2 separate regions of the Homo sapiens genome follow, and region 1 is linked to region 2. Evidence: fine-mapped expression QTL. Tissue or cell type: whole blood. Region 2 holds a variant in brackets; the other region holds the start of a gene. All regions are shown on one strand. Distances are from middle to middle. Region 1 holds the start of SEMA4G (semaphorin 4G). Region 2 overlaps SLF2 (SMC5/6 complex localization factor 2).

Region 1 (5,383 bases), 41 kb after region 2:
ACTGACATCTGAGCAAACCATATCTCCAAAAATTATAGTTGTAAGTGTGCCCTATTTCTTTGGATACCGGGAGCTGGAGCTTCTCTGTCCAGCTATCTCTGCTGATTTTTTTTAATTAAAATTTTCACTTTTTAAAAGCCAGCATGCTAAAGCTGAGAAATTGGTGATGGGTGGTGGTTTTCCAGCATTTGTGGGAATGTCCTGACACTCCCTTTCCCTTACTAACCATTCCCTAGGCTGGAGTCAAGAGAGGGCAAACCAGAAGGCCCAGCTTTGGGTCTGACTCCAAGACGACTGGCTGGGAGGAAAACTAAACAGGCTTCTGAGGCACAGTGGAATAGTGAGACTTCCGCATTGTTGCACTGGTGACAGCCCCTACAGAAGAAGCACCTCAGCTGTATATATAGCCAAAATAAAGACCACACCACCTAAAGGGAAAGTGCTGGGCAAACCAGAGATGGAGATGGCAAAGCAGGAACAGAAATGCTGCCACATTGAACAGTAAGCAGGACAACTTGACTAGGCCAGAGTTCTCTTGCTTCAGGGAACCTGCTCAAGTTTCAGGAATTCATACCCACCCCCTTCACCTAGGATCCCTGCTACAGTAAGTAACTGTTCTGTGCAAAGTGGAGCTAAACTCTGGTGTGTAAGTGGCTGACAATCACTGCTGAAGACGGCCAGCACTACCCTCAGCCACTTTCTTACAGCAAAGTTGGGGAAAATAGACTAGCAAAAACAAAACTCATACTTTTCTGTGTGTGTGAAGTTCTCCAGAAGGTTTCCAAATGGAATCCTCTCACAGCCACCCTGCGAAGCAGCCAGGGTAGTGACCTTATGGATGAGTGACAGCCTGTTCAAAGAATGACCTGCCTGTGTCCCAGGATGCAGATTTATGGCTGGGTTAGGGTTAATTTCTTTAGTTGATTTCCAGTTTTCTTTTCCACTGTCTGTCAGTATTCCCCCGTTCTTATTTTACCAGCTGGATTTGCAGAGAGACATACTGTCAATCAAAAGGGCTTCCTATGGGCAGCTCCATTAATTGCTTTTACATCTGATACTCTCATTAGGTTTAGAGATTTTACTGGGAGGCTAGCAGAAGGAAATGGATTGTGGTCTGCTATCAAAAGTACTGAAGTAACTGCCCAGTGATCATTGAAATCACACATTTTGCTCATTTAACAATGTCTGAGTTTGCCATCAGCACCTCAGAGGAGCAAAGCTTGGTTCATAAAGTGAAGTTGAGTGATACTGAGCCTACCACACTGGCCTACTCGCCACCTCCAGAGCTATCTGAAGTCAGCACTGCAGGTTCTGTGAACATTTGGGAAGCTGTGCCTCTTAGCCCCCTGGGCCCCTACAGTTTAATTGCTCTCCTATCTGCTACTGAAGGACCAGCAGTCTTCCTACCCTGCCTCCACTGTTACCACCAACCCACTTTTTGATAAGGACTGCAGATTTATCTTTCTTAGCCCTGCCTTGACTGGTCTTCCCACCTCAGACGTCCTTACTCAGTCCATCATCTCTTTCAGGATTTTCTTCTGTGGTCTTTTTCAAACTACTAGCTGACTTTTCCCTTTTATTTCCCACTAGGAACCCCTCCCCGCCCCCCCCCCCCCCCCAGCCATTTCATCAAATCAAACTCACTGCCCTCTTTCATGCCCCTTCCTTAGTTCCCCAACACAAGCCTGTGCATAAGCTTGAACATTTCTACCTTTGCCAATGGTATTTCCCCTTCTGGCTTACCCTGCTTCCTCCTTCTCAGACTTTTCCAGTCTTGATTGTCCTCTCCATAAACACAAGAATGAACTTCAAGGCAAGTTACTTAATGTCTTAGAGCCTGTTTCCCCATCCATAAAATGGGGCTATAAATTCCTCAGGATGGGATGAGGGTACAAATAAAAAATGAAGCAGGATATTCTTTGTAAAAGTGTGTGTACATTTTTTATTGTGTTTCTCCCCAGCTACCTTCCCTCTCCCCGCCACACACATCCTATTTGCAGAGTGTTGGGGGAGGTGGAACTGTGATGTGGGCCCTGCTGTCTAGCAGTCTGCAGTCACACACAGCCATCCAAACTACGAGATTGTATATGATTCAGTGCCAAACTGTGAGCTTTGGGGAATCCAGAAAGAAGGATGAAGCCTTTCCCAAGTTTCCTTTAGTTAAATGTGCCACTTGAATCCTGTTCTGACTCCTAGGCACATGCAAGAGTCAATCACATATGTTCCTGTGGCCTTTATCATTTTGGTCCATCTCTTGAGCCCACATGAATACTGTCATGGATGGAGGAGGAAGGACCAGGCTGGGTCAGGGCCTGAATGCAGGTTTTGTTTGGACTATAGGGGCTAAGTTCACTTTAATAGGCTGTGACCTATTAAAGGAGGCAGGAACCAAGTTTGCACAGAAGGACCATCCTAGTTGAGTTAAAGGAGTTGGGGAGTTGATTGTGAGGGGTTTCCTAGATTGCTGCTGGGTAAGGTGATTGAATCTGGGAAGGATAGGGTACTTGATTGCCTAGAAGGGTGCACTCTAAGTTCTGGATAAGAATGGTGCCCAAGATGAGCTGGAGGGGAAGGCAAGTGTTTGAATGACCCAGTCCCTGAGGTGAGCCTAGGTTAGGGTTAAGATTTGGTGAGTGAACAGGTGCAAACGCTTGTGGCTTATTTATCCAGAAAAAGCATTTTCTGTGTGCCTTTCAGGTCAGGCTGTTACTTTATCCCCTTCAGGCCTGACCCCATCTCCCCCACGCATAGCTCAAGCTGAACAGCCCCTGAAGCTGGGAATCAAGCCCCTACCTTGTGTTCAGAGCTTCCCTAACGTCCAGTCGCCACCTAGGGTAGCCTTCCCTCCACACCCTAGGCCGAGAGCAGAAGCGGGTGGCAGGAGCACAGGGAGTGAGGTCCAGGTTAGAGGACAGGCCAGAAGGCCCTCCGAGAGGGTCCCCCAACCCCGCAACGCCAGGACAGGTTTGCACGTCCCCAGCAGTAGGCAAGTCAGGGGGGTCCTAGGGTTACAGCGGAGGAGAGGACGGGCTATAAGCATGTGGAGGGTGCACGGGGTGGCGAGGCCACCACCAGGGGGCGATTTCAGGGCCGCAGCGCCTAGAGGTGGGGGGTCGCCCGATGGCCGAAGGCTGTGTGTGAGCCTCGCCCTCAAACCGCCTCTATTGTGCTAGAGTAGGGGGCGCAAAGAAGAGAGTGGCGACCTTCCCCTCACCCCACCCAGTCGGCCCCGCCTTTCAGGACCCCGCCCCACCCCCGGCTCCGCCTCCACCACCCCCCCCCCGCCCCGCCTCCAGCCGCGGCCCCTTCCTCTCGCAGCTGGTGCTGTGGGGCCGCGGAGCCGCGCGTCGCTGTCTCTATGGCCCCGGATCCGAGCGCAAAGGTGAGCAAGGCGAGGAGTGCGGGCGGCGCCCTGGCGTGAGCCTGGGGCTGCGGGCCGGGGGTCGGGCAAGGCCTCCCCCACGTCCATTCTACCCTCCAAGCTGGGCCAGGCCTTTCTCACCACCAAGTCCCCCGGTCCTGCATGACGGCTCTAGAGGGGCGCGGGCCAGGCCTCGGGCTGCGCGGGGTGCAAACCGGCCACCACGGAGTCGGGGACCAGCGCGGGGAGGGGGCCGCGTGGCGAACAGTGTTCCCCAGGATCTGGGTCACGTCTCCCGGCGTCCGGCGGGATCGAAGGAGAGCTTGTCCTCGAGCTGCAGCAGTAGAGACTGAGGTTAGACCTGACGAAGGGAGAGGACCGCGGACTGTCCAGGATGTTGGAGGGAGGGGGTCCCGGGGGAGGGGCTCTCTCAAGCCAGGAGAGACCGCCATCCTACTAGGCAGAGGGAAATACCGCCTACACTAGGCAGGTGGACATCTGGGATGAAGGTCGAGAGCCTGCTGATCCTCCATTGATCCTGTTTGAAGGGTCTCTCCTCCCCAGTTCCCTCCACCCCAAGATCTAATAGAGGAAAGGTGATCAGAGTTCAGGGGGCTGGCCCTGGGGAAGAACCCGAACTGTGGAACTTGGGGTGGAGTGTGGGGCGTGGACTGGAGACCTTAAACCCGTACTTCGCCACTGAAGGGAGGGGTGATATGCTCCGCCCCGCCCACTTAGCCCCGCCCCCTCCCACAGGTTAAGTGGGGGCTGAGAGCTCCAGCCCGTCTCCCACCTTTAGAACCGCAATATACATAGGGGTGGAGGAGTACTAAATTATGCGTTCCATTCCATCTTTGCTGAAGCTAGGGGCCTCCTCCTGCCTGAGTTACTTTCCCATTCCCTCCCTTGTAGAGCGGCCTTGACTCATGCACCCATCCCATCTGCCCATCCAAGGTCAGAAGCCTCCCCCATCACCACACACACACACACACACAACCCCCTCACCACCCCCACACACAAACACACACTTGAAATTGGGCCTTAGAATTGGGACTTTCAGGAACAGAGGCAGGGTTCTGCTCTGCATCTCACCCCAGTGGACACTGGCAGCCTCCAAGCCTATGGCAAAAACTGGACCCCTGTATGCATGTGTGCTTGTCTCTGCATGGATGTAGTTGTGTGTTCAAGAACTGCGTGTGAGCACACATGTACTTGACCCTTCTGTGAACATGATTGCCTGGCCCACTATATCAATGGGTTTGTGTGCATGTCCCTACACATACATGTGTATGTATAGGACCCTCCTGTTGAATAGGTGCACAGTCCTTGACACAAACCCACATGTGTGGGTTTATCTCTCCTCAATGTCTGAGGCTGTGTGACCTGCTGAATGGATGGGCATGTAAATTCAACGTCACATGTGAATATGTATGATTACCTGTGGCTGTGGCCCTCTGTATGAGCATATGTGTGCACAAAACTCCCTGTGAGTATATGTGTGAATGACCCCTGTGAATCCACGTGTTCACAGTCCTCCTTGTGAACATGTGTGTGTGTGTGTGTGTGCACCCATGTGCATGTATATCACCTTCCTAATAGTCACCCATGTGACTCTTAAACTATAAGTGTGACATGCACCACACTGAGTGGCTCCTCTAACCTGGGGCATGTTCCTCCTAGCCATAGTGCTCCCCACACACATGCCTTTTGCACTGAGCAAATAGGAGGTCCCAAAGGTAAACAGGTGTGCCTCCACAGGGAGGGGTGGGGCATGGCCGGCTTGCCTGAAGCTTCCTGCTGTCCCAGATCCCAAACAGGGAGCCTATGCCCTTTCAGGGTCAGGGAATCCTCTTCTCTCCCTTTCATATTTGACTCTACCCCTCAGGGCTCTGCCCCTGCAGTGCTGACCTTTACCTCTTGAATAATTGCTCCTGTTATCCCTCTGGCCAGTTCCTGATTCCTCCCCTCTTTCCAAGGCCAGATAGTTAATATTTGACCTGGGAGAGGAGGCACCAGTGGCAC
Region 2 (5,383 bases):
TTGATAGTGATGAAGAAAGTTTAGGTTACAACCTAGACAGTGATGAGGAAGAGGAAACATTAAAGTCACTGGAAGAAATAATGGCTTTGAACTTCAATCAGACTCCTGCAGCTACAGGAAAGCCTCCTGCTCTTTCCAAGGGGCTTAGATCTCAGTCATCAGACTATACAGTAAGTAGTTCTGTGACGTTTATCTTTACTTGAAGAGGGAAAGATGATTAATTAGTGAAAGGGGTGGATTATCGGAACTTACTTTAAAATTTAGTATTTATTATAACTCATATTTGTACTGAAAATGGAATAATTCTTGTTTGGTAAATGAGTTTCCATATCTTTAGTTTTATTACTGTAAGTCAGTGGTCTCCAAACTCTTTTGATCACACACACTTAACAATTTTTGAGCATGTACCCCAACATATATGTATACCTTTAGATTATATATATGTACCACTGTAATACTGTGTACTTTCTAAAGCATATGCAAAAACAGAATTTAAAAGGAAGAAGAAGAGAAAAATAAGTATTTTCCTGTAGAAGTGACGTAGAAGTTACTATAGACTAAGTTCTACTGGAGTCTCTATAGAAGTTCCATATAAATAGAAGTTCTATTATTTTCTTCCTGCACCCCAATGGATCACCTTGCACACCCCCTGCTTTGGAGACCACATCTGTAAATGAAGGTAGAGTGTAGAAATGTTGTTGATTGTGGTGTGCAATTTTATTTATAAAGTGCTTCATTCTATCTTGGGAATAAGCTGAATTAAATTCTAAGATGTCTGTAAAATTTGGTGGGGAAGGTGTTAATATTCCATGGTAACACCTAAAAATTAGTAGTTTGATTCTACTAAAATAGAATTTAAAAGTAAAGACAGGGTAGCCACAGAGTCCTTGAGTGTTTGCAGTCACATCTCAAAGTTAGCAGGGTTTTATAAGTACTGCCTTTCCTAATAGGTAGTAAAATCAAATTGTCTGCAGTGCAAAATACTAGATTTAAAGCATGATGGTGAAAATTATCCTTTAAGAAAGGTGTTATCCTGGCCCAGATTATTGAAATAGAAAATAGTCTTTCGTACCCTTAATTACTTAAAACATCCCAGTTCTTCTACTAAGACATGTGGTAAAGTATTTCTAAATGTTCTTGTTTTAGGGACATGTTCATCCTGGAACTTACACAAATACCTTAGAACGTCTAGTGAAGGAAATGGAAGACACACAAAGGTTTGTTAGCATAAAGATTAATTTGCTAAATTTAACATTTTGCTTGTTTGTGTGGCTTACTTTTAATTTACCTTTTTTAAAAAATCATGAGAAATTAGCGTGCATTTTGGACTCTGTTGTCAACTGTGTTAGAATAAGATATGTTGGCCGGACGCAGTGGCTCATGCCTGTAATCACAACACTTTGGGAGACCCAGGCAAGATTACTTGAGCCCAGGAGTTCAAGGCTGCGGTGAGTCGTGATGGCGCCACTTCACTGCAGCCTGGGTGGCAGAGTGAGACCCAGTCTCAAATGAAAAAAAGAGGCCAGGTGTGATGGCTCATGCCTGTAATCCAGTACTTTAGGAGGCCAAAGCAGGCAAATCTCTTGAGCCCAGGAGTTTGAGACTAGCCTGGGCAACATGGTGAAACCCCATCTCTACAAAAAATACAAAAATTAGCCAGTCATGGTGCCACATACCTATGGTCCCAGCTACTCAACAGGCTGAGGTTGGGAGGATCACCTGAGCCCAAGGAGGTCAAGGCTGTAGTGAGCTGTGATTGAGCCACTGCACTCCAATCTGGGTGACAGAATAAGACCCCGTCTCAAAAAAAAAAAAAGTGGGGGGCCAGGCGCAGTGGCTCACGCCTGTAATCCCAGCACTTTGGGAGGCCGAGGCAGGTGGATCATGAGGTCAGGAGATCGAGACCATGCTGGCTAACATGGTGAAACCCCATCTCTACTAAAAAATAAAAAAAAAAATTAGCTGGGTGTCGTGGCGGGCGCTTGTAGTCCCAGCTCCTGGGGAGGCTGAGGCAGGAGAATGGCGTGAACCCGGAAGTCGGAGGTGGCAGTGAGCCGAGATTGCGCCACTGCACTCTAGCCTGGGCAACAGAGCAAGACTCCATCTCAAAAAAAAAAAAAAGGGAATAAGATGGGTTCTCTTGTTCATAGACTGGATCAAAAGATCCAGGTTTTTATAGTATACTGCACTAACTAATAATATAAATTCCTTTCTGTTTATTACAACTAGTATCTGATAGCTGAAATTCTAGATCGAAAGCATGGGTAGAATTTTTTGT[GT/G]TTTTTTAATGGAAAATACATATAAAATTTACCATTTTAACCATTTTTACATGTACAGTTCAGTGGCATTAAGTAAATTTATATGTTGTGCAACCATTATCACCATCTAGCTACAGAACTTTTTCATCTTTCCAAACTGAAACTCCATACCCTTTAAACAATAACTCCCCATTTTCCTCTTCCTCCCACCCTCAGCAACTACCCTTCTACTTTGTCTCTATGAAATTGACTGTGTTTTAGTTATCTCATGTAAGTGGTATTATATTTGTCCTTTTACGACTGTTTATTTCATTCAGGGCAGTGTCTTCAGAGTTCATTCATATAGTAGCATGTGTCAGAATTTCCGTTCTTTATAAAGCTGATTATTCCATTGTATTATGTATATAACACATTTTCTTTAGTCATCTGTCAGTGGACCTTTGGATTGCTTCCACTTTTTGGCTACTGTGAATAATGCTGCTATGAACATGGGTATACAAATATCTCTTCAAGTCTCTCCTTTAGATTCTGTTGGGCATATACACGTAAGTGGACTTACTGGATTATATGGTAATTCCGTTTAATTTTTTGAGGAACCGCCACACTGTTTTCCACAATGGCTGCACCATTGCACATTTGCACCAACAATTAATAAGGGTTCCAGTTTCTCCACATCTTTGCCAACACATTATTTTATCTTTGTTTTTTGTTTGTTTTGATAATAGCCATCCTAACAGTAAAGTGGTATCTCCTTATTGTTTGGTTTGCCTTCCCTAATGACTAATGATGTTAACATATTTTCATGTGCTTATTGGCCATTTGTTATACAAATGGAGAAATGTCTTTTCAGATTCTTTGCCTGTTTTTAATTGGCTTGTTTGGTGGGTGGGGCGGTTCACACAGGTAGAATTTTCTGAAATATTTCTATCAAGTTACTCTTTTGAGGAAAAAGTTTAGAATTATGATGAACACCCCCCCCCCCCCCCACACACACACACACACACACACGAGAGAGAGACAGAGAGAGAGAGAGAGAGAGAGAGAAAAGTTGAGGATCATAATGATCTTAATGAAATTTATGTGACTAATTATGGACAGGTTTTGCTAATAAGAGGGGAAAAATATATTCCTTGTTAATTCAAGGAGTGTCCTTGAACCTAGCCTGGAGAACTTCACTAACAGCTCAGCTGACTTGATTACATGGAAGTTGGTATGTGCTACATATCTCAAACTTGATAACCAAGTAGCTAACTTTAGGAATTTTTCAGATGATTAGTAGTTCAAAAGCTTCCCCCTTTCTGAATTTAATTAGAGAACTTGTCTGTATTTAAAATTCTTTAAATATTTCATGAATTCTTGTGATCTGTGATATGAAATCTGAAGTTCCTCCTTTAAAATTGAGCACTTCACAAATGAAAGACAGTAGTACTAGTTTAATTGAATGATTGACCCTTTTCTATAATGATAGAACAGTACATTTACTAGTTATTTACTCCTCAGCTGTACTTATCCACTGTTTGTGGCTGGGGTAAGGACCTTGTTTAAAATAACTTAATCTTGGAGAGGCAGTATAAGCAAGGACTCTAGAGCTAGACTCTCTCGCTATGAATCCCACATCCTTGCATTACAAGCTCTTGCAAGTTACTTTGCTTTTCTAATGTTGGTTTTCTTATCTATAAAATGCGTTATAAACTACTACATGGAGTTGTTGTAAGGGTTAAAAGAGTTAATATATAAAGCCCTTAGTGCAGTGCCTGTCACATATTAAGTGCTCGGTAAATGTTAGGTGTTGTGATGATGATGACAGTGACAACTACTGCTGCTAGAAAGCCTAGTTAACTTATCAGGTTGTTGGGCATCTAGAACCCAGTGAACTTTAAAGAGTAGAGAGGATAATCAAATTAGTGATGTTTATTCTTTGCCATTTTTCCTTTCCCATTCTGTGAGTGGTTTGGACAGATCATTCTTGAAGTTCTAGCTTTATGGAAATCCTCAAGTCTTTTATGCAGTGGAACACTATTCTAATGCCACACTGGTAACTGGGTAAAAGCCTAGCACCTGAAATATATCTGTTTTCATGAAAATTGTACGTCGTGATGTATTTGGGAGACATAATTTGACCGATAGTATAACAAAATTTGTTATATACCAGGGTACTTAATAAGGGTTTTCTTTGTGCTGCTTTTAGATATAAACTAAAGACTTTTTAAAAATATTTTTAGAGTAAACTGTTATAACATTCTTTCCAATTCTCAGGCTAGATGAACTGCAGAAGCAACTACAAGAAGACATAAGGCAAGGCCGAGGCATTAAATCCCCAATCAGAATTGGAGAAGAAGACAGTACAGATGATGAGGATGGCCTCTTAGAAGAGCACAAGTATAGCATTTTTCATAATGTATTTTACCTTATTAAAGTTTTTACATTTTTTAGTTTTGTTTTTGTAAAATAAATGGGCCATTGATGGCTGTTAGTGAATAATTTATGATAGGTTTCTGTCTGTAATGGGTTTGAAAGGCAAATGTTAGGGCCAGGTTTCATCTTTTATCTTTTCTCCTGGTTATTGTTTCTTTTCACATAGACACATTTAGTGGCTTTTGACTAACAACTACAAAAAGTGGAAGAAGCAAAGCATACTTTTCTCATGCTAGTCTTCTAATTTGGGATTAACATTGGCTTAAAAAATGGTTTTCTTTGCACCCAGCTTTTAAATACAAAACTATATGTAGTGTAACAATTTGGTATTGATTGACTTTTTTTATGTTTCAGGGAATTTCTAAAGAAATTTTCAGTTACAATTGATGCTATTCCTGATCATCATCCAGGTGAAGAAATATTTAATTTCCTCAATTCTGGAAAAATTTTCAATCAGTATACCTTGGATTTAAGAGACTCTGGTTTTATTGGACAAAGTGCTGTAGAAAAACTTATTCTTAAGTAAGTAGAAAAATAGACATTTTACTTTTATATGTATAAAAAATTACTCTAAAACACTTCTGACTCACGTAATCTTCTAAAAGGTTAATTTCTATTATGACCTATTAAGTTTCCTAATCCTCTTATTACTATTGATCTTTATGTTTTCTTCTTTAATTATAGGAAGCAGTGTAGGATAGTTGTTTGAC

What was found. PIP is the estimated chance that this variant, and not a neighbour inherited with it, causes the effect.
Region 1: it holds the start of SEMA4G, and the variant in region 2 is the best candidate, but not a certain one, in a credible set for the expression of SEMA4G in whole blood (TOPMed, PIP 0.53).

What each region holds. Positions count from the first base shown.
Region 1 is chr10:100,966,210-100,971,592 of GRCh38, forward strand. SEMA4G (semaphorin 4G) reads left to right here and starts at 3,295. Exons shown (of 15, transcript NM_017893.4): 1 at 3,295-3,382. RefSeq lists a silencer at 3,252-3,311.
Region 2 is chr10:100,924,803-100,930,185 of GRCh38, forward strand. It overlaps SLF2 (SMC5/6 complex localization factor 2), which reads left to right. Exons shown (of 20, transcript NM_018121.4): 5 at 1-170; 6 at 1,147-1,217; 7 at 4,515-4,637; 8 at 5,028-5,195. Among named protein-coding and RNA genes, the nearest start is that of SLF2, 15 kb to the left of the region's middle. The variant GT/G (reference allele first, on the strand shown) is at 2,279.